4 linked regions of the Homo sapiens genome follow. The protein of the gene in region 1 interacts with the protein of each later gene in a pairwise test. Each region holds a gene or a part of one and is shown on either strand. Other genes may lie near its edges.

Region 1 (7,423 bases):
GCAAGAAGGGTGAGTACCGTCTATTAAGATATTTAGAGAGAGAGAGACCACATTCACATTACTCTTATTATAATATATTGTTATAATTGGTATAACTTATTACTGGTTATCATTAATCTTTCACTCTGTTCAATTTATAAATTAAACTTATCATAGGTACATGTGTTTAGGGAAAAAACAACATATATAGTATCTGAAGTTTCAGGCATGCACTGAGGGGTCCTGGAATGTATCCCCCTTGGATACATTGTATCTACTATATTCACTGTATCTACTGTATTCATTGAATCTACTGTATTCTCCAAACTGATATACAGATTCAACAAAATCTCTATCAGAATCCAGCTGCTTTCTTTCCAGAAATCAACAAGCTGATCTTAAAGCTCATATGGAAATGCAAAAGACCTAGAATAGCCAAAACACTCTTGAAAAAGAACAAAGTTGGAGAGTTCACACTTGCCAATTTCAAAATGTATTACAAAGCTAGAGTAATCAAAACAGTGTGGTACTATCATGAGGACAGACATAAAGGCCAACAGAATAGAACTGAGAGTGCAGAGGTAAACCCTTACATTTATAGTCAAATGATTTTCAACAAGGGTACCAAGACAATTCAATGGGAAAGGAATAGTTTTTCAACAAACTGATGCTGGGACAACTGAAGCTGGACCCCTAGCTCATACCATATGCTAAAATTAACATGAATCAAAGACCTAAAAGTAAGAGCTAAAACTATGAAACTCTTAGAAGAAAACATAGGGAAAATCTTTGTAAACTTAGGCAATGGTTTCTTAGATCTAACACCAAAGACAAACACCAAAAGAAAAATAAAAACAGGACTTCATCAAAATGAAAAATGTTTGTGCTTTAAAGGACATTCAATAAAGTGAAAAGACAACTTACCAATAGGGAGAAAATACTTGCAAATCATGTATCTGATAAGAGGCATGTGTCTAGAACATATAAAGAATTATTACAATTCAATTAGAAGACAACAAAATTGAAAAATGGCCAAAGGATCTGAACAGACATTTCTCTGAAAAAGATAAGTTAGCAGCCAATAAGCACAAGAAGATTCTCAAAATTATTAACCTTCAGGGAAATACAAATCAAAACCACAAGGAAGTCTGTCAAAAAGATAGGCAATACCAATAGCTGGCTGGGCGCAGTGGCTCACGCCTGTAATCCCAGGACTTTGGGAGGCCGAGGTGGCTGGATCACTTGAGGTTAGGAGTTTGAGACCACCCTGGCCAACAGGGTGAAACTCTGTCTCGACTAAAACTACAAAAATTAGCCAGGCGTAGTGGTGGGCCCCTGTAATCCCAGCTACTTGAGAGGCTGAGGCAGGAGTATCACTTGAACCTGGGAGGCGGAGGTTGCAGTCAGCCGAGATCAGGCTACCGCACTCCAGCCTGGGACAGAGCAAGACTTCGTTTCAAGAAAAAAAAAAAAAAAAGACAGACAATACGAAGTGTTAGGAAAAATGTGGAGAAACTGGCACCTCAGAAGCTACTAGTTTGGGAACAGAATGGTGCAACAGCTTTGGAAAACTGTCCGGTGGTTTTTCACACAGTTAAGCACAGAATTACCACATGATCCAGTAATTCCACTGCTAGGTAATCAGCCAAGAGAAATGAAAATACCTGTCTACACAAAAATGGGTACACGAATGTTCACAGCAGCATTATTTGTAATGGCCAGAGAGCTGAAACACCTAAATGTCTGTCAACCAATAAGTGAATAAACAAAATGTGGTTTATCCACACCACAGAGTACTATTAAATCATCAAAAGGCATGAAGTGCTGATCCATGTTACAACATGGATAAACCTTGAAAACACTGTGTTAAGTGAAAGAAGTCAGACACAAAAGGTCACATGTCATATGATGACACTCATATGAAATGTCCAGAACAGGCAAATCCAGAGACAGAAAGCAGATTAGTGGCTGTCAGAAGCTGGGGGAAAGGGAAAACTGGGAGATGGCTGCTAAGGGGTATGGGATCTTCTTATGCAGTGATTAAAAACATTATAAAATTGACTGGAGTGGCTGGGTATGGTGGCTCACACCTGTAATCCCAGCACTTTGGGAGGCCAAGGCGGTCAGATCACCTGAGGTCAGGAGTTCCAGACCAGCCTGGCCAACACGGTGAAACCCCATCTCTACTAAGAATACAAAAATTAGCTGGGTGTGGTGGTGCACGCCTGTAATCCAGCTACTCAGGAGGCTGAGGCAGGGGAATCGCTTGAACCCGGGAGGCGGAGGTTGCAGTGAGCCAAGATTGTGCCACTGCACTCCAGCCAGGGCAACAGAGTGACTCCGTCTCAAAAAATAAAATAAAATAAAATAAAATTGACTGGAGTGATGGTAGCACATATCTGTGAATGTACAAAAGCTACTGAGTTCTATGATTTAAAAAGGTAAATTGTATGGTATGTGAATTATGGCCCAGTAAAGCTGTTTAAAAAATCAGGGGGAAAATATGTCAATTAAAGAAATACACATTTAAAACTGAAGATACTTGGCCGAGCACGGTGGCTCATACCTGTAATCCCAGCACTTTGGGAGGCTGAGGCAGGCGGATCATGAGGTCAGCAGTTTGAGACCCGCCTGACCAATATGGTGAAAACCTGTCTCTACTAAAAATACAAAAATTAGCTGGGCGTGGTGGCGTGCGCCTGTAGTTCCAGCTACTCAAGAGGCTGAGACAGAAGAATCCCTTGAACCTGGGAGGTGGAGGTTGCAGTGAACTGAGATCATGCCACTGCACTCCAACATGGGCGACAGAGGGAGACTCCATCTCCAAAAAAAGAAAAAGCAACTGAAGATACTTTTTTTGCTTCTTATCTCTGTCAGGGTTAAAAAGATCAGCCCTTCAGATTGAGGAGGCTGCAGAGGAGGGGTGCACAATTTCTAGGGGCGGTACACAGAGTGGGGAGGGCCTGAGGAGCTGCCCTGCCCTTCAGGGGGATGGAGGGCATGGTGGGCAGGACTGAGATCAGCAGGAGGCAGAACCTCCCAGGGATGCTGGGCGGATGACAGCTGACGCTGAGCATACCTGTGTGCCAGGTACAGCTCTAACCCCTGGCCTGGGCTATTTCCTATAACCCTGGGCTGACTCTCGCTGGCCTTGGGTCACCTAGCTCCCAGTGGCACAGCTAGGACTTGAATTCTGTCTCCAGGGTTGGGCTCTCCGTCAACTACCAAGCTCCATATCTGGAGACATCAGTGCAGGAATGAGTGAATGAATGAATGCAAGAACAAAGGAATGGAGGACTGGCAGCCTCACCTCACAGGCAAGAGTCGTGATCAGCACTCCCCAAGGGCCAGGGACCACTTTGCTTTTTCAGGATCTTGGGATCTGTATATGCACTGTCCTTCTGGCCAAGGAGGTGGCTATGGGATTCTGGAGCCCTGGCAGACACAGCAGGGCAGCCACGGGCTGGCCACGTGGCCCCCTCCCCAGGGCCGCCAGGCAGCCAACACTTCCCAGTCCTTAATTTAGAGCTGCGACTTCTGCATTCCTCTGTGGCTTCCCAGCCCACTGCGGCCCTTGCAGAGAGGAGGCCCCACCAGCCAGAGGTTTGGGAGTAGCCGTTGGCGGATGGGAGGAGAGGTTGGCGAGGGTGAGTGTGTCCAGCACCCACAACAGCGCCTGGTTGAGTGTCTGCCCAGTGAGAGGATGAATGGATGAACGTGAATTCATTCTTTAAAAATAAAACTAGAACTTCATTAGAATAATGAGATGCCTGGAGGGGTGGACCAAGGGATGGAGACAGATGTGAGAAAGCAGGCACAGCGAAATGCGAAGGGTGGAATCAAGCTGGTGCGTGTCCAGGCATAAAATTCTTTCAACTCTGCTGCACGTTCAAAAGAAAAATGCTGGCGGAAGACCTTGAGCATCCCCACTGCTGACATGTAACTGATCCCCTGGGCACATCCCCTTCCCACCCACCAGGGTCCCAGGGAAGGGGTGGCCATACCACTCCCCATCCAGGACCCAGACATTTAACCACTGCTGAGCGGTCTGGGCACTGGGCTGATCCCTAGGACTTATTCTACTGAGACTGTGTGTCACCGCGGGGACATAGCTTTCTCTCAAACAAGACGGATGTGACCGCCAGGGCCTCCCATGCACTCAAGGCAGCCAGGACCAGCTCTGGAGCCAGAGGACCTGGGTTTGAGGGTAGGCCCGGCCTTTCCAGAAGACCCCAGTCACTTCTCCACCCTGGGCCTGTGTCTCCACCTACAAATACCACAACAGGCAGGGTGGGGCGAGGACTGGATGAAATGATGATCATCCCAGCAAGGCCACCTCCACAGCTGACTTCCTCTAAGTGTGTTTTAGAAGGAGCAGCTCCTCCCCCTGCCCGCCCGTGTGTTGTGCTGAGCCCTGTGGGGAGCTCATGACTAGCCATGTCTGAGGTTGACCAGTCGGCTCTCACCTAGCTATGTCTGAGGTCGACCAAGGTCTTGTCTTGGTTCACACTTCATCTGCCAAAAGCCACATCCTGTGTTCTCAGCCGCCAGGTTCTGCTATAGTGAGGGCTCTTGTCCTCAGACAGCAACTGCAGGTGGTGGATTACATGTCACAGTGACAGGCATCAACAGCAGGCAAGCTGTTCCCAGCATCCCCTTCCCAGCATCCCCAGAGCCTGTCCTGCCTGCATCATTGAGCCTCACAGACGTGGGGGATAAAGGGTGAAGTCGGCTGGGTGCGGTGGCTCACGCCTGTACTCCCAGCACTTTGGGAGGCCAAGGTGGGCAGATCACAAGGTCAGGAGATCAAGACCATCCTGGCCAACATGGTGAAACCCTGTCTCTATTAAAAATACAAAAAGTAGCTAGGCGTGGCGGTGTGCACCTGTAGTCCCAGCTACTTAGGAGGCTGAGGCAGGAGAATTGCTTGAACCAGGAGGCAGAAGCCGCAGTGAGCCAAGATCACGGCACTGTACTCTAGCCTGGTTGACAAAGTGAGACTCTGTCTCAAAAAAAAAGGTGAAGTCACCACCCACAACCAAAGAAAGGGGACCAGCCAGCGAGGTAACACTGACCTACAAGAAGTCCGGGATGCGCCGTCAAATTAAAAACTCAAATAAAAGTATAGAACGATTTGGAATACAAGCCCAGTAAAACTGATGCCAGCCCAACTGTCCATGAGCAGAGAAGGATGGTGCCTGGTGGGGCTGGGGGGCCTTAAACGCAGTCCTGGCCTCAGACCCTGCATTTGTAGCCAGCTGACCAGAAGAAGGGTCTCATGCCCAGGTCCTAATGTAAGTGCACTGCTGGAATGGCTTTCCTTTATAAGTCAAGCAGAGGGTCTGGGGGAAGTAACTGGTAGGAGGGAGGGTAGGGTGAGTCCTTGCTCAAGGCTCACAGCCCTGACCTGCCTCCTCAGGGTGGCCAAGAGGTCCAACCTCCTTTAAGCCCTCAGCCAAGGGGGCACAGGGAGGCAAAGTCATGTTCCTGTGGCCTCTCTTGCTGCAGGGGCCACAGAAAGAGAAGCCACTGACCGGCAATGCCCCCTCTTAGCCCCCAGTTGGGTGGGCAGGCTTCCTGGAGGGCTAACCAGTAGGTTCCTGGGGTCTGATCCTGACAAGACCCATCCCAGCAGCAGGTCTTGGACCTGAATTTCTCACCTGGCTCAGCCTCAACTTCCCCGTCTGCAAAACTGGTGACTTGCCCGCCTGGGGTCTGGGAAGAGCAGGACTGCCCTATGGAGATCTTGGAGCAGGATCTGGTGCACAGGATCACTCCCTAGGTCAGGGCTTGAGCAGCCCAGGACATGAGCCCTACTGGGGCCCTGGGCCTCAATCCCCAAGGTCCATGGAACACAGGGAAACTTCAGCCCTTAGCCCTTGATCCCCAAGGTCTGCAGCATACAGGGGACCTTCAACCCTCCAGGCCCCAGTGGGGTCTCCTGTACTCCTTTCCTGAGCCTGGGAGGCCAGGAAACACTTTCTCTGGGCTGGCTCCATTTTCCAGATGAGGAAACTGAGGCCCACAAACCTGCCCAAGGCCCCTGGCTGCATGATGGCAGTGCCAAGAGTAGGAGGCTGGACTCCTGTCCCCTTGGGGTAGCCCTTTCCATAGGATTCACAGCGAACTCACAGCCAGGATTCCGTAGGATTCACAGCGAACTCACAGCCAGGATGGGGCAGGCAGGCAGCACAGTGCCAGGAGCTATGGTCTACAAAGTCTCTACCTGCACCCAACTCCCAGGGACATTCCAAGAAATCACCAAGGCATGAGGATGGAGCTGGTGGATCACCCTTGTCTCTAACCACCGCACAGCCAAGTCCTGCTCACACAGAGACTCCCGGACTCCCAGGGGACCCAGGGCCACCCCTCACTGACCTCCTGAGCCCCTCCCCATGCCTGATGCATGAGAGGCAGATCCCATCTGTCCCCTGTCCCCTCCCCTGCTTCAAATACTCATGAACTCCCAGCTGCCTGCAGATGGCCCTCCTGTGCCTCACCCCTGCAGAGGACCCCACACCCCAGCTGTCTTTGAGGATGTCTGTTCCCTAAAGCTGGAGGCAGAGGCCTTGCCTCTCTGGATCCGTCCTGCCCTCCAGCCCCATCCTACCCACCTGCTGTTCCCCAGCCCATGGTTGTGGCTGCCCTTGGTCTGCCAGCCTAGTGCTGGGGCATTTCTTACCTGGCACCCTTTAGATCCCTTTGCATGTAAATCTTAAAGAAGAGGGAAAAACAACAGAAAACGGATTTGATGCAAACAAGATACAAAATAAAAACACACGAGGCCCTGCCTGGCCCTCCCACGGCTCAGGGGCAGGTGGAGAGGACCAATGGGTACCTCAGGGCCACACCTGTGTGATGCCTGAGCGGCCCTCAGCCCACATGCCGCGCCTGCGCCTCTGCCTGGCCACCTGCTGCAGCTGCGCTTCCTCCCTCCCTGGCCTTATGTACGGAGGGGGCCAAGCCTGACCGGGTGGATTCTCATCCTCCCAGCCTGTGAGGCCAGCCGGGCGTCTGAGAACAATCCGTACTTGTTAATCTTTTATCTGGAACCTTGGACCTCAGGTCGGCCCCTCCATCCTCCCTCCTGGGATTCGCCACACAGCCCCTATAACCTGACCTCGCCTGCTGTGGGATTAAGTAACTATGTTCCCTTTTATGCTGGCTGAGGCTGTGGGAGAGAGTGACAGAGGCAGGCTGCTGAACCCAGTCTCACCTAGACTCGATCCCCACCTGCCAGTGAGTCCCTGTGTGACCTCAATCTGGGTCTCAGTTCCCCCAAATGTGAAACAGGAACCTTCAGGAGGAATTTCTCAGAGTTTAAAGGGGGTGACTTTTGCACACAGAGGTGCTTTGAGAACAGGACCCCCAAGACCCTGGCAGTGGGGACAGGCCTGGCCCCAACACTACATGTGGGTGTCCCACAGCCCTGGCTGTGTGTCTT
Region 2 (7,538 bases), on another chromosome or scaffold:
GTGTTGAGCACCTGCAGGGTGAAACCTAGGTATTGGGTCCTCCCAATCCCCAGCCCCATTTAGAGGCTGGCCAATGAAAGGGGCTGATTAAATGGTGTCTGGCTGGAGCTTCTTTTGGTGGGGGGGGAGTGGTTACAGTGACACCAGGCCCTGTCACCCAGGTGGCAAAGGATCCAGGAGAGCAGGCAAAGCAAGCAGCCCCTCCTTGCCTGTCTTGCCCTTTAGGACCTTCCCACTGCCCAGCTCAGTTTACCACCTCAGAGCCTAGGATGGCACTGCCAGGGCCGAGTGGGCTTCTGGATTCTGTGCCCCAGTCAGGGTGGACCCTGCAGTGCTCCCAGCACCCCGCTGCCCGCAGGCTGGCTCCTGACTGCCACGTTTCTGAGCCCAGCCAAGCCCAGCCAAGCCCCTTGACTCTGTACCAGGCTGGCACGGAAAACAGGAGGTGGGAGGGAGGACCAGCTTCCTCCAGAGCAGCCGGAAGCGTCAGGGGGTTGACCTCAGGTGTTAACACCCACGTCTGGTGGCTCAGGGTGCGTTTAGGTCTCCGGAACAGTAATGAGTCAAGGCCAGGATAACCAGTCCCAGGGTCCCTGACTTCCCTCCAGGCCTCAGCTATGGAGTAGTTAGCATGGGACACATTTCCTTCGGGGACAGGGCTTGGGCTCTGACCTCTGCCTGGGCCTGAGTCCCTGCTCCAGCTCTCCCTAGGAATACCCAGCTTAATGGGTTCTTGGGAGAGCTGTCATTAAGACGCAGCAGCTCAAAGGACCCTGACTGTCACAGAAAGGGGCCTGTGGGGATGGAAGGAGGTAGGGAATGGAAGGGAAGGGAAGGGAGGGCTGAGCCTGGGTGTGGAGATCCCATCCTCCCCTCAGGGCTGGGAGCTATGGCTGTCAAGGGTTATTAAGCACAGGCTTAATGACAGGGTTATTCAGCACAGGCAGTATAATGGCTAGCTCCGGGGCTAGAAACTTCCTTGACCACACCGTGGAGATTGGCCATGCTGCTGCCTTGCCTTTGGGGCCCCAGGCCTGACCTGACCCCTCCACCAGTGTTCCCACCTGCCCTCCCCCGCTCCTCCAGCAATGCCCAGCTCCTTCCCTGGTGGCAAAGGGTCTGTGTTGGGTGTACTACCCAGCTGTCATTTCCTAGCACAGACTCCTCTTTAGTCCTAAGTCCTTACATCTGTGCGGGGCTTCATGGTTTCCAGAACCTACTCACATGTATTAGCTGTGTAATCTCTGCGAACCCGGTGCATGTGCGTGGGGCTGTTGTGGGTCATATCGTTTCCGTGGGCAGGGGAGAAGGTGAGTCTCGGGAAGATGAATGCCTCAAGACAGCACAGCTAATCAGGGAGCTGGCCTCAGCCTTCTGATTCTGCAGTTAGTGACCTGCCCTAGAAATGATTCCCTTCTCTGTTGCTCCCCCAAGAGACACCCCAGGTCTCCTCAGTGCCTGCCACCCAGAAGCAGCTCACAGCTAGGTAGACTCCACAGCTGCTCTCCTCTCCTGGGAGCCCCAGGGGATACAGCGTCTCTGCACACAGGCCAAACTTTGGGGCGCCTCCTTGGATGGGAAAGCAGGAAGCTTGTGCTTTGATCCTGGCTCAAAGGGAAGCCCCTTCCCCTTTCTGATCATCAGCTACAACCGCACTAAGAATTGTTCTTGCCAGAATTTTCAGAAGAGTGTCGTGGGAAGTGCTCAGGTTGGGAATAGGAGACAATCACTCGAGGGGCCCCTGCAGGTCACACCCTTCCCCCTTGGACAGTGGCTTCTCCTTTCCTCTCTTCCCTTCCCTTTCACTTTGGTGGCTGGGCAATTGCTGCCTCTTGGCCAAGGACTGGAGAAGGAAGACCCCTGGGTTCCTCCTCAGACCCAGTTATTATCTCTTCCCCTCCCTGGCCCTCAGCTGTCCTCCTTGAAAGATAGGGTTGATTCTCTTTGCCCCAAGACAGCGAAGACGCTCCAGGTATTCAGAGGAGGAGGAGAGAGGGTGAGGGCATGAAAAGAGACCAAGTAAAAGATGACCACAAACACCCTAGATTGTTTGGAGGCATCTCTGCACTGTTTTCTTTTCCTTCTTTCTTTTTTTTTTTTTTTTTTTTTTTTTTTTTTTGAGACGGAGTTTCACTCTTGTTGCCCAGGTTGGAGTGCAATGGCACAATCTTGGCTCACCACAACCTCCGCCTCCCAAGTTCAAGCGATTCTCCTGCCTCAGCCTCCCAAGTAGCTGGGATTACAGGCACCTGCCACCACGCCTGGCTAATTTTTTGTATTTTTAGTACGGATGGGGTTTCACCATACTGGCCAGGCTGGTCTCAAACTCCTGACCTCGAGAGATCTGTCTGCCTCAGCCTCGCAAAGTGCTGGGACTACAGGCGTGAGCCACTGCACCCAGTCTACACTTTTCTTTAAAAAGAAAAGGAATCAGTTTCCCCAGGGAGTGGCAGAGGGCAACCGTGGCATCAGAACAGCCCCCTGCCTTGGAAAAATAGTGCCAACCTCTAACCAACAGACCTGGAGACATTGGGCAAAAGAACATGCAGGATTCAGGAAAGAATAGTCGGGAAGGACAGCCCTGGCTCTGTGCTCAGCTTCTTAGGTGAGCTGGTCCAAGGACCATGGCAATGGAGGAAGAGAGGAAGGCAGGTGGGTATGAGACGTGTACCGGGCTGGGGTGTGAGGGGATTTGGGTGTGGCCTCTTTTTTTAACCTAGAAGGTGTCACAGAATTCTCAGCTGATGGATGCTCAGGCTGCTTGAAGGGCCTTACATGGGGAGACCCACCCTTCCTGTGTCTTGGGAGCAGAGGGCCCCACACTCACCATGCTGGCTCTGTGATCCTCCCGGTCTCCCTGTAGCCTGGAGCTGAGATTGTCACCCCAAGGCAGCAGGAGGGCCTCCCCACACAGGTCCTGGCTGGCCAGCAGGTCAGAAGTCCCTGGTCAGCACTGGCTGGAGGAGGCCCGAGTGCAGGGCAGGCCTTGGTCCCTCACGCCCAGCATCCTTGTCCGCTGAGCAAGCTGCTGCCTCTCTCTGTGTATTCCAGGAGTGATTGGGGGACTTTGGGCAGCTTGATTAAAACAGCCCTACAAGTGAAGTTGCCAAACTGGAATGATTATGTGTCTTGTAACCTGACACCTATCTTAGGGGCTGGAACAACACCTGAAGTCATTCATGGGACCTTCGGCCTCAGAACAGGTGACACACCTAAGGCGTAACAAAAGCCTTCCCGCCTGAATGACTTCCACCCAACTGGGTGTTGGCTGAGGGTGATGCCAGAAGTTTCCGCCCCCCCTCCCCCTACCTTCTAGGTGCATGACTTCTCACTGTGTGGGTGCTTTGGTTTGGGGTTGTGGGAAGTTGGAGTGGTCTGGGGGTTGGGCGACAGGGTTTGCAGCTCAGTACAAAGAGATCATTGCCAGGTGTGGAGCAATAGGATTGGAAAGTCCACAGAGAAGGAGGGAGTTTCTTCTCTTAGGGAGGTAAGATGTACCCCCTTTCCCTGGATCCCAGAAGTGAAGCTGTCCTGCACAGAGCCAATGTACTAGTGCTTCCTGCCCCTGCCTCAGCAGCCGTTCAATATTCTGAAAATCACTATTGGTGCTCTGGCTAGAGCCCACGTCTCCTCGTCCACGGAGTCATTTCCTTCTTTCTTTCTTTCTTTTTTTCTTTTCTTTTTTTAAGACAGGGTCTCTCTCTGTCCCCCAGGCTGGAGTGCAGGGGCGCAATCTCAGCTCACTGCAACCTCCGCCTCCTAGGTTCAAGCAATTCTCGTGCTCCAGCCTCTCGAGTAGCTGGGACTACAGCCACCTGCCACCACACCCAGCTAAGTTTTGTGTTTTTGTATTTTATTTTATTTTGAGACAGAGTCTCTGTTGCCCAGGCTGGAGTGCAGTGGCGCGATCTTGGCTCACTGCAACCTCCACCTCCCAGGTTCAAGTGATTCTCCTGCCTCAGCCTCCCAAGTAGCTGCTGGGATTACAGGTGTTGTGCGCCACCATGCCTGGCTAATTTGTATTTTTAGTAGAGATGGGGTTTTGCCATGTTGGCCAGGCTGGTCTCAAACACCTGGCTTCAACTGATCCACCTGCCTCAGCCTCCCAAAGTGCTGTGATTATGGCGTGAGCCACCGCACCCAGCCCCACAGGATCATTTCTGATTCACGTTCTGCCACATCCTGATAGCTGGAGCTGCCCCCTGGCCAGGGGATGTGCAAGGTGAAACCTTACAGCCACAGATATTTTGCTGGGAGAGACTTGGATAATTGTCCACATTGTTCCCCCATTCTGTGGGCGACAAAACTAAATTCCAGAGAGGCAAAGTCAATGACCCAAAGTCACATAATGAATTAGTGTCTGGTTCCATATGAATCCAGATCTCCTTCCATTTCTCAGACCTGACCCTCCCAGGAGACCAGCCTGGGTTAGACGTGTGTATTTGTCCTTCTGTTGATAACGTGCTTCTGTGTATCAGCCCTTTAATTCTCCAACAACAACCCCAATATTTTGTTCCCATTTGTCAGCTGAGGAAACTATAGCCTATGGACATGAAGTAGTTTCGGGCAGAGTTGGGGCTGGAACCTGGTTCTCTTACTGGTTCACACTGCCAGGCTTGTGAACAGGCTGAATGGAACACAAGTGTTTGAAAGCCCCAGGTTCATGGTTTGGGATAATATGGCCCATGGAGGACCCCAGTGATGTCTGAGCAGGAGGAATACCGGATCTGTGTAATGGATTATTGGCCAAATCTCAGCTGATGAATGCAGTGTGGCCTTGGACTTGTCTCTGAGCAGCAGAGATCTGAAGCTGGCCTGCAGGGCTCTGGAGCCAGCACAGCCCCAGCCCTTCCTTACTGATGGCTGGTGGCCTTGAGAGTTGGAAGTCTTGGGCAGAGGCAAGAGCCTGTGATCTCAGGTGACCTCAGGGTCAGGGCCGTGATGGTCCAGGCAGGCACCTCCCCAGCAGCAGGGCAGTGAGAAGCCAGTGGGCCACTGGGAGCCACGTTTTCAGTTGTCTTGGTTCCTCTATGTGCCAGGCTAAACATCTGGCCCACAGGTTTGCATTGCTTTACCTGGTGCTCAGGTGATGAACCAGGAAAGAGGCAGCTGTCTGGGCATGAAGGCTGCTGGGCATGGCTGGTTGGAGGGATGATGACTCAGCCCTCCTGGCTTCTGCTCCCATTTGGGTCTGGGAGTTTGTGGAGAGGTCCGGGAAGAAGGCACATAAGCAGGACTGGGCAGGGTGGCTGTGATGCCTGCAGGTGGGGGTGAAGGTTTACAGAGGGAGGCACAGTGGCCTGGAGACAACAGAGGCCCACCTCTCCCAGGTGCCAGGGAAAACCAGCTGGACCAGAACCCACATTCTTTTTTTTTTTTTTTTTCTGAGACAGGGTCCCCCTCTGTTGCCCAGGCTGGAGTGCAGTGGTGCAGCCTCAGCTCACTGTAACCTCCACCTCCTGAGCTCAAGGGATTCCCCCGCCTCAGTCCCCCAAGTAGCTGGGATTACAGGTGTGAGCCACTATGCCTGGCTTATTTTTGTATTTTTTGTAGATACAGGGTTTCACCATGTTGACAAGGCTGGTCTCAAACCCCTGAGCTCAAGCGATCCACTCGCTCTGGTTTCCCAAAGTGCTGGGACTACAAGTGTGAGCCACCGCACCCGGCCCAGAACCCCCATTCTCCCGGAGGAAGCCTCAGCTCTCCCTCAGCCCTGTCCTGCCTGCTTCTTTCTCTTGCCCATCCATCTCTTTAGATCCTCCTCCTGTTTTTCCTCTCTTCTTTCCCTCCCATTACTTCTCTTTTATCTCTTCCTCTTTATTTTTGACATTTTTTTCTCTTCCTTCTTCCCTTTCCTTATCTGTTTCCAGCATGTGTGTCAAGATCCGAGGCAGAGTTATCATGAAACTCCTGAAGCTGAAGCTTCAGAGCCCCTCACTTGCACGGTTCCTTCCAGGGCCCTGGGAAAGGGCCCGGCAATATGTTCACACAATCATACGTTTTTGTAAATTTTGCTGAATATTTCTTTGACGTGCTTTTTCTTCAAGAAAGCCCCTCAAGAAGTGGCCTATCCCTGTGAGTGAAGGCCAGAGCCTTCCTCACCCAGGCTGGTCCCATACAGGTGACCTCAGTTTAAGGACCAACAGGTCTCGTCCAGCTGAGAGCTCTATGCACACCAGATTCTGAGAGGTGTCAGCAGCACTTTAAAAAACTTTGTTGTTTGTTTTCTATGAGGTTTCTGGACAATGGTCTGAGCTCAGACACGTTCTGCAGGAGAATATTATTTCTGTAAAGATGGTTATTTAACCCTCCTCCACCCCATCATGGCGGCGCTGCTGAGGGCTGACCCAGAGGCCAGGGGAACTCGCTGGTGTCCATGGGGGAGGTCCAAGGCCTATTGCCACAGCCCTCCCGCCTTGCACAGCACAGAGGCGGTCACCCCAGGGACAGGCAGGCACCCGGCTGCTCCTGTTGCCCTTCCTGGAGGAGGGGGCTGCCTCCTGTCCCTGCAACTGCTTTCCTTATGGGCCAGCCTGACGCTCAGACTTGTTTGAAGCTGCACCGGCAGCTTTTTTGTCTCTTTTCGGCATTCACAACAGCCGGGGACTTGATCTGGATGTATTTTAAACCACATTAAAGAGTCTGTTGCTTTTTGAAAAAAACCAAGCCCCTCAAAATGCATAAGCTTCAGGCCTCTCAAAACCTGAATCCTCCCTGGTCAAGAGCTTGAGCTCTAGTGGCCTGGGGTCCTGCCTCCTAATCTCAGCCACTAATGATTTGCGTAACCATGGGCATCTTATTTAATCCTCTTGCACGCCATCTTCTTCATCTGTAAAGTGGGGATAACAATACTTCTGACCTCATAGGGTTGTTATGAAGATTAAGAGATAATCCTGGCTGGGCGCAGTGGCTCATGCCTGTATTCCCAGCACTTTGGGAGGTCAAGGCAGGTGGATCACTTGAGGTCAGGAGTTTGAGACCAGCCTGGCCAACATGGCAAAACCTCTATTAAAAATACCAAACTACTCTACTAAAAATACCAAAAAAATTAGCCGGGCGTGGTGGAGGGTGCCTGTAATCCCAGCTACTCAGGAGGTTGAGGCAGGAGAATCGCTTGAACCCAGGTGGAGGTTGCAGTGACCCAAGATCTTGCCACTGCACTCCAGCCTGGGTGACAGAGCGAGACTCCGTCTCAAAAACAACAACGACAACACAAGACCTTCACTTCCATGTGAAGTGTTTGGTGCCTAAGAGAGATGTTGTAAATGGCACTGTTATCCCCATTCATTTCACAAAATGTGTGTTTATGGAGCTCATGCTAGGCCTACCTCTTGTGTTAGGCACTGTGGATTAGGAGATAAAACACAGGCTCTGAATACAAACACCCTACAGTCTACTGAAGGAGACAGGAGACATCCACACATCACAGTAAGCTTAAAAAGATGTTCTAGTAGAGATAAAAAGAGAACACTTGGGGGTTTGGAAACCTTTTTTCATTTTTACAGCTCTCTCTGCTCCCTTCCTCCTTCCTCTCCTCC
Region 3 (7,131 bases), on another chromosome or scaffold:
TTTTTTTTAGCTCATCAGCTGTCGTTAGTGTATTTTATGTGTGGTCCAAGACAATTCTTTTTCCAATGTGGCACAGGGAAGTCAAGATTGGCCACCCCTGCCTTAGAGGAAATGTGGCAGGTGACACAGTCTACCTTCTGGTGTGAGGGAGAAGCACCGGCTTGGCTCCTGTGGAACAGCGAGCACTGAGGCCAGGGGGTGCTTCCAAGATTGCTCCGAGGGCTCTTCTGTCAGCCTAGGGCAATGGGTTAATAAACTCATGGTCCACAGTAGGAAGAGTTTTGGTGCTTCAAAGAAAACACAGGTGTTCAGATCTCTGAAGAGCGATCCTGGAGCCCAGAGTTCCCCACGTGAACTCAAGTGGACACCCAAAGGCCTCCAAGCCTCGTCACCTTATCCTACCATGTTCCTGAACAGCATGGTGGCAGTGATGGCCTTCGGAATGATGAGGCCAAGGTGAGCCAGGAGACTGCTCCTGGGCGGGGTTTGGCCCCAGGACTACCTTGGATCTAGGCTTGTCGTCGCTGTAAGTGGTAACACTGGGCCGCAGCTAGGAGCAGGGCAGGGTGGCTACCATGGCACCTGCTCCTTCCATGTGCAAGCCGCCACCCAGAGCAGATGTGCAGCAGCAGCTGCGGGCAGTCATGGAAAGAGAGAACAGCGGGAGTTGAAATTCTCATAATTTTAATGATCAATAGCTTCTGGTGGGCTCTGGATGGTACAGTTAAACAATAGACTTAAAGACCTCCCCCAAAGCACGTCCACACCCCCTCGGCAGCGTCTGCCTCCATCAGCATTCCACTGCCCAGTCGGACTTCCACAGCCTCAGACCCCCCTCTTGGGTTATGGAAATCCACATCTTAGTGTAATGAGCTGAAAAACCCTGGGTACACCCGTGATCTGTTATTTTTTAAAAATAACAAATACTAAGCCAAACACCTGCCCAGGCTCTGCTGCCTCACAGAGTGTGGCGATCTGAATACTCTGTTGTCTCTTGTGGGCCGGGTGGTTTTGCTTCGCTCCCTGTTCTACTGAAATCATACGGCATAGAGTTCGTAAATCTTCTTTACACAGTACACCAGGGCGGCCAGTGCTATCGTGTTGTGCAGTCTCTTTCTGTGCAGGTCGTCCTTCCGGACCAGCACCACCGGGGTGGAGGAGGTGAGTGTGTGCAGAGGCAGGCGCGACAGTTTATAGGCGTCGTACTCCACTTGGTACTTGCAGCAAGGGTCAAACTGCCAGGAGATCCCATAGAGGGTGCAGCAGGCCAGGCTCAGCACACCAGCGGGCAGGGAAATGTAGTGGGAATAATCTAAGGGCAGCGCCAACGGGGTGAAGAGGCAGGCGGTGCCCGCCAGCACGGCCGTCTTGTGCAGGCAGTTGCCCACGGTGATCCAGCGGGCTGTCTCGTCGCCAATGCGAGTGGGCTCAATCACAATGTACTTGTACTGGGCTTCCAGGGCCTGCTCCAGCTCGTACTCAAACTGGTCTTGGGCATTCTCCCCATTGTAGATCTCATGCACAATGTAGCAGTCTGTGGCCGACAAGCTCACCCTTTTGATGGAGGGGGCAGGAAAGGGAGAGAGAGAGAGAGACAGGATGATTAGGCTGAGGAGCACTTAACTGTGTTTCAGCGCTGGGGGAGGTCTGAGCCTGCACTGCGGAGAGCACATCTCACTTGGGTCCTCATCTCCTTTAAATCCCAACACAAGATAATCAGTAAAAAGGATTTTTCCTGAAAATAGTGAAATAAAGCTGGGTGTGGTGGCTCACACCTGTAATCCTAGCACTTTGGGAGGCCGGGGGGGCGGATCATGAGGTCAGGAGTTAGAGACCAGCCTGGCCAACATGGTGAAACCCTGTCTCTACTAAAGATACAAAAAAAAATTAGCCAGGTGTGGTGGCGCATGCCTATAATCCCTGTAATCTACTCGGGAGGCTGAGGCAGGAGAATCACTTGAACCTGGGAGGCGGAGCTTGCAGTGAGCCGAGATCGTGCCATTGCACTCCAGCCTGGGTGACAGGGCGAGACTCAGTCTCAGAAAAAAAAAAAAAAAAAAGATATAAAAAGGCAGGAAAAGCAGTGCCTCGACGTTTAACATGACAAACACAGGCCTGGTGGTTAGCCTAAGGCTGTGGACCAACTGATCTGAGTCAGCAAAGGAGCCTAAAGGGGAAAGAACGATTCGGCACAGAATCACAGGAGCACACACGGCAGCAGAGGGCCAACAGCCTGAAAGCCATTCTTAGTTAATCAGGGCAACTGCAAGAGGATTCTTCACTGGAAACCACAGACCTCAGGACAGATAATGCTAAGCCCTTGCCCTCCGCACGTTTCCTAAGTAGTCATCCTGGGCCTGCAGAACAGAGGCAGAAAGGAAGAGCTTTGCCTTGGGCGAATGAAATCCAAACTCCTTTGGCTCTCCTGGAGGCCAGGCTGCACAAGCCCTGGGTGCCCTTCCTGGGCCGGCAGCAGCCCCCAGCTCCTCCCCGCTGCGGAGGGGAGAAGAGGAGACCCAGGACACTAGCCCACTGCATAGGAAAAGCGACCCTTTCCTTGAATTAGGAAAAGACAACGCTTCAAGAACAGTAGTGGGCTCCAAATTTAGTAAGCAGGAGGGTCAACTGAGGGGCTTCAAAACATCCAGCCCAGCAATGCCACCAATTCTGGCCCTGTAGGCCCAGGCCCCTGCACCACCGGCAAATGCCACTCATTTGCATAAGAAACACTGCCACGGAGACCACACAAGGGGCTTTCCCCCCCGGGACTGGGGATGCATGTCATGACCCCAACCAGCAGGAGAGTAATCCACCACACGGAACGCTCAGCTCTGCAGCAAGGCCAGACGGCAGCCCGGCTGCAGCCCCAGCAGTGACCGTGGGCCAAGCTGCATTTCAGGCAGTCTTGCTTTTCTTGGTTTCAGGCCTCTGCGGTACAAATTTCCCACCCAAAGCAGAATCTTCTTCACCTGTGGCGGGCAGGCCTGAAGACAGGGCTATCCATGCCTTGTCATCTTTCCTTGGCTGGTTTCAGCTGAGACAGATCTCTCTGAATCTCCGCACCGTCACCCCACATCCTAGTTTTCCGTTATCTGCTCATCTGCAAGAAGTCTTTATCTGGGCCTTGACGGGGACACTGCTAGACATAGCTCTTGAGGCTGGATCAAGTTTTCCAACTCATGGCTCCCAAGGCTGCACAGAGCCATGTTCTGTCACATGCCTCAGGGAAAAGCTGCCCCTTCCCTCAGCACACCCTGGTCCCCAGGATGGTCGGACCCATCTGACTAAAGGACACAAGGCTCCAGGGACCTGCTGGTCACTGCTCCCCTGCTGGAGTCCATGCCCTTCCAACTGGGAGGCTCTGGAACACTGTACCAGGCAACACAAGGGTCAATGTGGCCCATGTACCTGAAGCTCCGAATGTGCCTGACAGGAACTAGCTTCCTTTCATGGCTAACGAGAAGCACAGCCCTCAGTGTGCACAGACGCGAAGGTCCCGTCCGCCCAGCCTGTCCTGGCAGGCACACCTGGCTGCGGTGCAGAGGAGAGTCATGGGGAGCTGAGCCACCTGGCCATTGGCCGTAATATGGGAGTGACGAGTGAAGACATTCATAACAAGCCACCCCAGAACCTCAGCCCAGCATGAAGGTAACTCCCTCCAGCCTCCTTCAAAGATGGGAGCAATTCCAAGTGAAGGATGGTGGAAATCGGACTGTCGGGAAACTTCAAGGAAAAAGAACAGGCAATCGTAGTTCTTCCTACTACTGAGACTCCTCCCAGCTCAAAGCTTTCAGCAAACAAATAAGCAAACCTAACAGGCAGGGTTGCATTCTGGTTGGATAAACAACTAGTTAACGATCTCATGTGGCCACATTAAAGATGAAAGTCATTGGTAATGGGCTGACTGTGCCCCCAAGCATGGGGACCCTAACCCCGCCCCTGGGTGGGAACCACTTTCATAAAAGGCACTGGCTTGGACTTGGGCAAACGGAACTCTTTATCCTGAAAAAGTCACTGTAACTAAGCCAGGCTAAGGCAAAGCCTCCTAATTCAATCATAGGCCCTAATTAAACGGCATGCACTGGGGAGAAATCAGTGCCCTGAGGGTGGGACAAGAGCCTCCTAAACATGGGTTGCTGCCAAGCCACCTGTGACTGTGCCAGTGTCACGGCTGCCTCGCCAGGGATGAAATGATGAGCTGTTACTGTAAGACTGCACGAGCAGCTTATGAAATGGGGAAAGGAGGGTTTTCCTTCTAAAGTTCTCGGTGGAGTTTTTCCATTTGGTCTTAGAGGAGAGGTAAGGGAGAGGCCAGCTGTTACTTCCAGGTAGGATTCAACAGTTTTTATTTTTGAGACAGGTTCCTGCTCTGTCACCCAGGCAGGAGTGCAGTGGTGTGATCTCTGCTGATGGCAGCCTCGACCTCCCGGGTTCAAGAGATCCTCCCACCTCTGCCTCCCGAGTAGCTGGGACTACAGGTATGTGCCACCACGCCTGGCTGCCTGGCTAATTAAAAAAATTTTGTTGTACAGATGGGGTTATGCCATGTTGCCCAGGCTGGTCTCGAACTCCTGGGCTCAAGTGTTCCACCCGCCTTGGCCTCCCAAAGTCCTGGGATTAACAGGCATGAGCTACCGCATCCAGCCAGATGCAGCATTTTAGAAGCTACCTACAGCAAACAAGCACACCCAAAGCAGGGTCTTCACTGGCGCTGGAAAGCTGAAGGCCGAGCAGTGCCCCCACGTGCTCAGATGAGAAATGAGTGGCGGTGGCGCAATGGGCTGGCTGTGGCCCTGGGTGTGCGGGGAGGGGCGGGGCCTCCACTCTCAGGTGGGAGCACTCCTGGCCAAGAGAACTCCCTTCTGGTCTCAAGTCCATCAGGCAACAGGAGCAGAGAGGCCAGATAACAAGGTAGGGGTGGAGGACCAAATCGTGTCCCAATCTTGAGACGGAAATGGAGTTGCTTCCAAGTCAGCTGTGCATCCTACTGACTGTCAAAGCCAGGCCAGGGACACCTTGGGGCGGGCACCAGAGGCGGGCTTCCTCCCTCAGGAACACTCAAAGCAAAAGGGAGGTGTCAAGCTGGGGTTACACAATGTTCTCGCCAACACCCAAATCCACCCTAGTGCGGTACCTTTCTCTGCCCAGCAGGCCAGCGCCATCCTGAATGTAGTGAAAACCACTGTTGGTCCCACAGAGGAAATTCCAGTGGAAACCCCGGTCCTGGAACCGACTGCCCCATCTGGAAACACAGCAGTGGGCAGATCCCACCCCCTCACCCCCTCCGGCCCCCCTGCAAGCCCAGCTGGCACCCACATCCACCCAGACCCCTCTGCAGGCTCCATCGCTTGCTGGGACGGATGGGTGGGTGCGTCCACGAGTCCCAACCAGCCTGGAAGCAGCGAGAAGCCAAGGCCCTCCAGGCTCCCTCCCACCTCACTGCTGTTGCCAGGTGTGGCCCGCCCCCCAGCACAGGGAGTGAGGAGACTGGGCATCCTCTGCCCTCGGCTGTGGGCAGTCCTGTGAATGACACAGCCATAAGCAAGCACGTGGACATGGGGGCACTCGCCAGCACACATCCTGAGATGGTGGCGTGGGTCTGCCCCCACCTGCCTGTCAAACCATGGCCCCGGCCTCCTGCAGCCTCGGCGTCTTCATATGGGCTGGGCACTGTTGCTGCCCACTGTCTAAGACACCTATCCACAGCAGAAACACAAAGGACATAAGCCACACTGCCTTCAAACAAAGGCAGGGTCCTGCACAACGGCGCTGAGGCCAGAGGCTCACCAATTCTGCTTTTAAAGCCAGTTAGGCAAAGGGAATCTCGGTTTCCACTGGGAAAGGACAACACGTGAAGTCTAGGGAAGTGGATTTCTAGGATTCTATAAGGCAACAGACCCTATATGGAGACGGTAAGGTTCAAACCAAAACACACACAGACGCACCCAAAGCCGCAGGATCCCTCCGTTGGAGCTCACCCGGCCACGACCAGGCAGTCAGCACTCCAACTTCCTGGTACACTGGTGGGAGTGGGGTGCTGTCAGTGCAGACACAGGTTTTTTAGCTGCCACTGCTGGGCCCTTGGGTTCAGGTCTGCACTGCTGACAGGGACTGCTGCACTTCTCTTACTTCAGAAATTCGTGGCCATGACCAGGTGCGGTGGCTCACGCCTGTAATCCCAGCACTTTGGGAGGCAAAGGTGTGCAGATCACTTGATGTCAGGAGTTCGAGACCAGCCTGGCCAACAAGGTGAAACCGTCTTTACCAAAAATTAGCCAGGCGCGGTGCTGCACACCTGTAATTACAGCTACTCAGCAGGCTGAGGCACAAGAATCACTTGAACCTGGGAGGCAGAGGTTGCAGTGAGCCAAGATTGTGCCACTGCACTCCAGCCTGAATGACAGAAAGAAAAAAAAGAAAAAAAAAGAAAAAAGAAACTGCCAAGTACTCCCAGGAGACAGCCACGTCCAGCCAGCTCCTGACCACCCAGCAGCCACCCGTATATGGCTTGCTTCTGCTTGTGGGTCAAACAAAACCTAATGAAGGAAAGAACCCAGTCAGAAGGTTATCTCAAACCACTGCAGAGCATCACCAGCTGCCCCCTAACTGGTAAGGCCATGGGCTTTAGGAACTGGGTGATCTGAACCCTGGTGCATGGGAGATCTTTTTTTTTCCTTTTTTTTTTTTTTTTTAAATTATATGGACTTTTTTTTTTTTTTTTAAGTAAGAGCTAGTTGGAATCTTTTGAGCCCTGGGCTTCCTAAGGGACTGTATTTTTGCTTTTCATTGCAGGTGTGAAATGACCAGTAAGAGAGCAATTAATAGAGTCTATGTTTAAAAAAAAAAAAAAAAAGAAAGAAAAAGTGGCCAGGTGCAGTGGCTCATGCCTGTAATCCCAGCACTTTGGGAGGCCAAGGCAGGCGGATCACCTGAGATCAGGAGTTCGAGACCAGCCTGGCTAACACGGTGAAACCCTGTCTCTGCTACAAATACAAAAATTAGCTGGGTTTGGTGGCACGTGCCTGTAATCCCAGCTACTTGGGAGCCTGAGGCAGAAGAATTGCTTGAACGCAGGAGGCGGAGGTTGCAGTGAGCTGAGATCATGCCATTGCACTCCAGCGTGGGCAACAA
Region 4 (7,134 bases), on another chromosome or scaffold:
TTTTATTGAATGTCTAATTTAAATTGCTTTTTCACATATTCTCACCATTTATATACATCAAAGGGTGATGAATTTTGACTTTATCAGTTTCTTCACACATGCACATTGCACACACACATGCTCATGCACACACGTTCATGCACACATACTCATGCACACATACACACTGAATTTTTAGTCTTTCTAAGAGATAATACAGACAAGCTGGCTTTAACACTCTGCAAACGTTGAAAACTACACAAAGAACAAAATACCATATCAAACCCTTTGACTAATCATTTCCAATTGTGTGATTAGAGTCGGAATAAGGGAAGCCTGCACTACATCTCCTTTGAGTACATTTTAAAACAGAAGGTTATAAAAGATATTTAATAGTATCCCTTTATCACTGACCGTGCAAAGGCTGTGGAGAATAGAAGGATCTTGGGAGATAATTTGTAATAAAAAATTTAAAAATGTTTTCAAGTAAAATCAGCATGTCATATTAAGATGTTTTCTAAATAATATATATTTTGAAGGAGAAAATGTAATGAATATATGTAATTTAGAAGCGTTGTCTAAAGAGTTTACACAACAGAGACGACACAAATTCAAACCACATCCGTGAAATCACTTTTATTTTTATTTTTTTCCACATAGATGACTTCATGTCAACTACAAAAATCATGAAATGAAGAACTGATTGTGAAACTGCAAACTCAAAATCACTGGAGTGATAAACAGGTTTTCCCCCAGATGACTTAAAAAAAATAACCAGGATACCATGAATTCATGTTTAAGTAGTAAACATGTCATATATTTAAAAATAATAAATATAGAATAGCAGTACAGAAACTAATAGCATAAACAGCATGAAGTATATTTTACTTTTAAGACAGATGAAATTTCTAGGCACAGCTTTAGGCATTAAAGAGGACACAGAGGCATAGGTTAGAGTGCACTGCTCTGTACAAAAATACAGTCTGAATAAATTACATTGCTAGCCATACAATTAGACGTCACTTACCAGTCAGTTCATTGCATGTTTAATAATATACAGGTACATGCTAATCCATATATATCATTTATATTCAAACACATAAGTCTCTCTATATTTATGTCTTTAAAATTTACATGTTGAACTTACAAAAAGCTAAATAATTGTGCAAGAAATCGGAATAACTAGCCCTGCTGAGTATTTTATGCTATATGTGTGTGAGTATATATATGTGTGTATATCTATATCTATAGATGTAGATCTATATCCATAGATATCTATCTAACAATGGGTTTGTGGCTAAAAATTATGCTTAAGAACACATCTAACAAACCTAAAGCTGCAAAGACATAATGTTAATGTAGGTGAAAATTTCACTTGTGTTTATTCTGATAGACAAAATTGTATTTTAGATGAGAAGCAACAATTTTCATGTTGTACTGAGATTGTTAGTAATGAAATACTTCCAAATATTAGTGATGGTAGAAATCTAGTGTAGGGCTCTTTGCTGAGAAGGGAAAAAAGTCACATAAGAAATCTACTTTTCAGTAAACTGCAAATATGTGTGCTTCAACCTATAACATATTCTGTCACTTTGAGCTTGTCATATTGACAGAGAATGAAAACTTGATAAGACTCGAGATGTGATGATATTGGTTTAACAGTACACTGCATCCTCTACTAGGACCAAGAGAAGTGCCTCATTGGTGTCAGCACCAAAGTACTATTCTTTCATTATTCAGGAATAAAGAGATCTCAGAACAGAGAATGTTTAGTTGCTGAAATCCCTATCCAAATATCATATTTCTCATGCTGCTCTGACAATATGCAATTAACTGCAAGACACTCTGCCCCAGATTTTACTATTTCTCAAAAAATTGCTTCAAAAGACTCTATAATACTATCTTTCTGGAGAATTTCCACTCATAATTTCTAATGATTCTTTATAGAATCATATATTTTTATAAAGGTTTCTGTCTGTGATGTATTTATTCGCTTTTGTCTATCATTGCTAAAGTAAGACTAAACCTGGTACTTCATATTCGTGATTTTATAGAAAATTCATGTGTGTTTTCTAGCATTTGGATAATAAAATAGGTTTTTTTTTTTTGGCTGTTGTTTTTGGCAACCATTCTTAAGACAAGCTGAAAGAAGAACTGTGTTTTGGGAGGTAAAACAAATTATTAAATACTATCGATGTGGTCCTGCTCTTAACAGATTTTGCAATACAGTAACATATAGCTACTTTTAAAGTAATTTTTCTAATGCTTCTTTCTGCAAGAGGGCCAAAACCAGAACATACTGTTTTAGTGTCTTTGTTAACAAAAATAATTATTTATAACTTTTATATTAGAACTGTATATTTGATATAAAAATATGTTTATAATTAAGCTATCCAAATTTGTATATTAAACAGAATTAACACAAGTTTGCAGCATGAGATTAGTTGCAAACTTATTCCCTATTATTAATACTTCCTTCCATTGAACAGTCAGTAAGTAATTCCCTTAACATAAATCCATCCTAAGTGTGTGCACAAATCGGTTAGCCCATCAGTTAACTTCAGAGGACCAGGTGATAACCAGATGAATTCTACTCCTCTACTGAGACATTTAGATATTTATATAAATCTATCGCTATTCCTTTCTTAAAAAAATGAAGACATTTAAAATACTTGCAAAAAATAGCAGCCTTCTATTTTAATGAATTTTACACAAAATGATCATCCTAATTGCTACTCTCTTTTCAACTACAGTGCTTACAGAGAATCATTAATTTTCAGATTAACACCATTTCAATTTTTATTCTTAGGCAACTCTATTGACACTTTCCAGTGAAACAGTAAAGAACATAGAGCAAAAGCTTTAAGGTACCATACTTTTGTATGGTAAATAAGTATGAATACCAATCTAAGCCTCTTAACAATGTGTACAAGGTTAGTGCTCAAACCACTTCACTAGAGTAAATATTAATTTTACGTGTGATAGGCAAATGTATGTGGAGGGTTAGGGAACAACTTATTACCATTTATACTAATGGTTCACCTTCTATAAAAACAGTGAAGCTTGTTACATACGCACACTTGTTTGCTGCAATGTTTGGCAAATGATTTAAAGGGTACAAAAGCAACTCATGCAGATTTCTTTCTGTTTGCCCCAGGAAAAACAGAGATCCTCAATTTTTCCCCAGTCTAGATAGGGCTGAGGCACCAATTTCTAACCACATAATGAGAAGCACATGTCTCCAAGTCTTGACTCTCTTCCCAGGGAGACGCTGATTGCCAAAGCATAACCTCCCATTAAAAAGAGTGTTCCTGAAGGTGGAATGTGTATCATTAACCAGTTACATTCACAACTCCCATTAGATGCTGAAGGGCAGTTCATTTTTCAAGGGCTCACTCAAGCAAATAACCAACAGCCAATGTAGTCATTGGGTAGGATAAGCAGGCGGTAAGGGCTCTAACAGTGGAATCCTTGTCAGCGCAAAGGAACTTCTAAATGTTGCTTATGCCAACTGCTCCCCTGCAGGCAATAGGAGATTGAGGCAAATCTCATTCCAACTAGTTTCTCACAATGGTTGCTGTCATATAGACCCTTCATTTGTCAAGAAAAACGATATGAACATATTGGAAGTTTGCAGCATTTGCCTATGTCTAATCAGCTCTCTTAATTTGTGCAGATTTCTAAAATGGATGTAAAAGCTGGTTATGATGTTGACAGCCAAAAGGCAAAAAAGATTAAATCAACTGAGCAAACTGCTTGATGCTCCACAAGTGTTTTAGAAAATAGTAAGTTAGAAAAGATGCAGACGTAATCCTTTTGTTGGATGGTGGTGGTTGTTTTTACTTTGAGACTATTGGTTCTAGTAGTAGTCTTCATAGTTCTTAGGGTTCAGGCAATAAAGGATGGCACCCCCAAACGAAAATATAGTTGCACCCCAGGCCAGGCCATAACCCCAGTTGAACTCATGGTAAATTTTCAAGCTCACAGTTTCAATGAACTTGATTGGGTAAAGGACCAGGCTGCAAACCTGTAAAACAACTGAAAGAAAAGCAAATCAAAATTAGAAAATGTTATTTGCAGCAAATAAAATAATATAAATATGTAACTATATATGTATGAGAGTAACTTTGTAATCAAATATACATAAAAGCCAAAAATTTTAAAGATGGCTTGTTCTAGATGGTATACTTTAAAATACTAATAATTTTTTTGTTTAAATACCTTTTCCCAATATATAAGAATTATCCTATTAATTAGTAAATCATTATTAGTATAGATAAAATAATTAGTGCAATATAATAATTTATATGAGCATACAAAGTAGTGATTTTCACCTTAAAAATATAATTATCATTATTATTATGGCAAGTAGTACTAGTTAAACTAAATTGTGCCACTAATAAACCGTATAAGTAGCTCCTCAAGAATAGTGACCCCAGCCAGGTGCGGTGGCTCACGCCTGTAAATCCAGCACTTTGGGAGGCCCAGGCAGGTGGATCATGAGGTCAGGAGTTCGAGACCAGTCTGACCAACATGGTGAAACCCCGTATCTACTAAAAATACAAAAATTAGCCCAGTGTGGTGGTGTGCACCTGTAATCCCAGCTACTCAGGAGGCTAAGGCTGGAAAATCGCTTGAACCAGGGAGGGGGAGGTTGCAGTGAGCTGAGATCATGCCACTGCACTCCAGCCTGGGCGACAGAGCCAGACTCTGTCTCAAAAAAAAAAAAAAAAAAAAAAAAAAAAAAAAGAATAGTGACCCCAATGCCAACTGAAACTCTTGTTATTTATTTATGCTATTAAGGAATTAGGAAATTCAAATTAATTTCTACTGATGCAACTGGTCATCCTGTGAGTGATAATGTGCTTTTGATGTTGTTGCTGCTTTGCAATACTAACTCAGCCCAATATGCCAGAAAGTCTCACCATGATGTCTTTGCTTACATTACTCTGATCCAAAGCTACTTTCATTATTTTCTTCTCATCCACTCTATGCCTCTTGTCTTTAAAAAGTGGCTTAAAAGTTATTAACAGATGATATTTTCATATCTGTTTTCCACCTACTTTCAAAAAAGAATTAAGTCGATAAAGGCAAGAGAGATAATGGTACAGGAAAACCTAGGCCAATTATGGCTACTGTAACAGAGGTCAAAACTTAGCTCTTAGTCCCTGGTTAGATCCTACTTCTGTCAGGGCCAAAGGGGAAATATGATTAGTCATACCGAATAAAATAAACCAAAATAATCAGGAAGGGAATGTTTATTTTGTTTTTGTTTTGTTTTGTGTTGTTTCTACTATCTAAAATAAAATGAAATTTATGTTGTGGATATGCACAAGACATAATGTCTTCCACTTAAAATTCTTAACTTCCTATTAGATCAATTATTATGTAATTTTATTTTAATTAGTTTAACTACAATTAGTTAACTACAGCTTCATTCTCTACCATAGGACAGCTTCCACCCTCAAGAAATAGACAATCTTTTTCCCTAAAAAATACAGAGTACAGTTATATTTAACAGGGGTTGGCAAACTACCAAATCTGGTCTGCTTTTTGTTTTTGAAAAAGTTTTACTGGAACACAGCCACACTCATTCATTTACGTATTTTCTATGCAACAATGGCAGAGTTGAGAAGCTGCAAAAGAAACCACACAGCTCACAAAGCCAAAAGTATTTACTTTCTTGCCCTTAACAAAAAAAGTTTGCTAACCTCTGATATATGAAATAATTTTAGGGGGTAAAATAATTTTTGTTTAATTCATCTGAAAAGAACAAAAATGTGAATAATTAAAGAAAAGGAGGGAACAAACTGACATAGTAAAACTATATACATAAATAGTTTTGATATCGCTTATATGTTTTAAAAAAGAACACTAGGATGGATAGAGTGTTTAATTAAAATGGAATTTTATGTTTTAAAATGTACTCTCATCTATTTTTAGCCCATGTAAAAGATTATTACCAGTATGATGAAGATTCCTAGAAAGTCTACATAACAGTCATCTTTCTCTCCCATAAAACTGATGAAATACAGCAAATTCATGAGGAAATGATTCCTCAAAATTTCTTTCTATAAGGCTCTGGCTAGGTGTCAAAGGACCGACCTAGAACTAGATATAAAAACACCCAACATTTCTGCCGTGTAGCACAACACTGCTGAGTCAGCACTTTGCCTACCATTACTACTGAGAGTGGATACACAAGTAAGTTTGTATAAGAGGATACCCTACTGATATCCAAAATAGAAATCAGACCTTCTCAGAAAAGGTTTTGGTTGTTGTTAGGACTCAGCTGACGGCATATTGTATGACCCACACTTCATCTATTTCCAGTTAGTAAGTGCTAAAATGTGCATTAATTTTAAAAAAAGCCCAGTTGGCTCTTTGCCTTTGTGAGGAAAAGGGAGCTTTCATGTTTTAAATGTCTTAAAACTAACAAGAAGTCAATTACTATCAACCATAACTACAGAGAAGAAAATTCCAAAGTTGCCAAGTACATTTGAAAAAAAAAAGGCACTTCTCCTTAGGTTTCTATACTCTGTTCACTCGTCAAATCTGTACTGATCCTACCAGGATATGACTGAAACAAGAATGTGGGTTAGGTATAGTAATTCATTTACTCATTCAATAAATGCATCCATTCAATAAATATCTGAATGTTTCTAAAGCGATACAGTTTAAGGCATTATGCTATCAAAAGAGACAAAGCTGCTACTCTCATGGGTAGTCAGTCCATTAGTAAACAAATATAGAATATAATGTCACATATTGCTAAGAGACAAGAAATGCAAGAAAGCAGACAGAACACAGGGATGAGGGCTGCTCTTTTAGATCAATCGTGAGAGAAGGCTGCTCTGAGGAGGAGATATTGAGCACAGATCTGAATGAATTGGGGGTGCAGAACAACATAGTGGGGACTGAGCATTCCCACGTGAAAGGCATAGGCACTGCAAAACTCCCATCACAGGAGCATATCTGGTGCACTGGAACAGAAGTCAGAAGGCTGTGATTGCAGTACAGAGAGCAGGAAGGGAGAAGCATGAGATATGATGGAAGAAACAGCAGGGGCCCTTCGTGGTTCATGGACAGCCTGTGAACCATATCTGGGGTCTAGATTTTATTCTACGTGTGACAGGCAGCTGGTAGAAGAGTTTG

What was found.
Region 2: the proteins of SUSD3 (region 1) and TMPRSS4 interact in binary tests that used the Homo sapiens proteins (3 or more experiments, as listed by UniProt).
Region 3: the proteins of SUSD3 (region 1) and TMEM11 interact in binary tests that used the Homo sapiens proteins (3 or more experiments, as listed by UniProt).
Region 4: the proteins of SUSD3 (region 1) and TMEM47 interact in binary tests that used the Homo sapiens proteins (3 or more experiments, as listed by UniProt).

The regions. Positions count from the first base shown.
Region 1 is NC_000009.12:93,061,632-93,069,054, reverse strand, and holds part of SUSD3 (sushi domain-containing protein 3), read right to left. Parts: intron 6,695-7,423; exon of another isoform or gene 5,640-6,694; intron 4,569-5,639; exon of another isoform or gene 4,446-4,568; intron 954-4,445; exon of another isoform or gene 904-953; intron 21-903; exon of another isoform or gene 1-20. UniProt on the Homo sapiens protein: May play a role in breast tumorigenesis by promoting estrogen-dependent cell proliferation, cell-cell interactions and migration.
Region 2 is NC_000011.10:118,072,595-118,080,132, reverse strand, and holds the start of TMPRSS4 (transmembrane protease serine 4), read right to left. Parts: upstream 3,056-7,538; 5' UTR 2,831-3,055; coding exon 2,828-2,830; intron 1-2,827. UniProt on the Homo sapiens protein: Plasma membrane-anchored serine protease that directly induces processing of pro-uPA/PLAU into the active form through proteolytic activity.
Region 3 is NC_000017.11:21,197,287-21,204,417, forward strand, and holds the end of TMEM11 (transmembrane protein 11, mitochondrial), read right to left. Parts: intron 1,555-7,131; coding exon 1,038-1,554; 3' UTR 668-1,037; downstream 1-667. UniProt on the Homo sapiens protein: Plays a role in mitochondrial morphogenesis.
Region 4 is NC_000023.11:34,626,475-34,633,608, forward strand, and holds the end of TMEM47 (transmembrane protein 47), read right to left. Parts: intron 4,018-7,134; coding exon 3,839-4,017; 3' UTR 601-3,838; downstream 1-600. UniProt on the Homo sapiens protein: Regulates cell junction organization in epithelial cells. May play a role in the transition from adherens junction to tight junction assembly.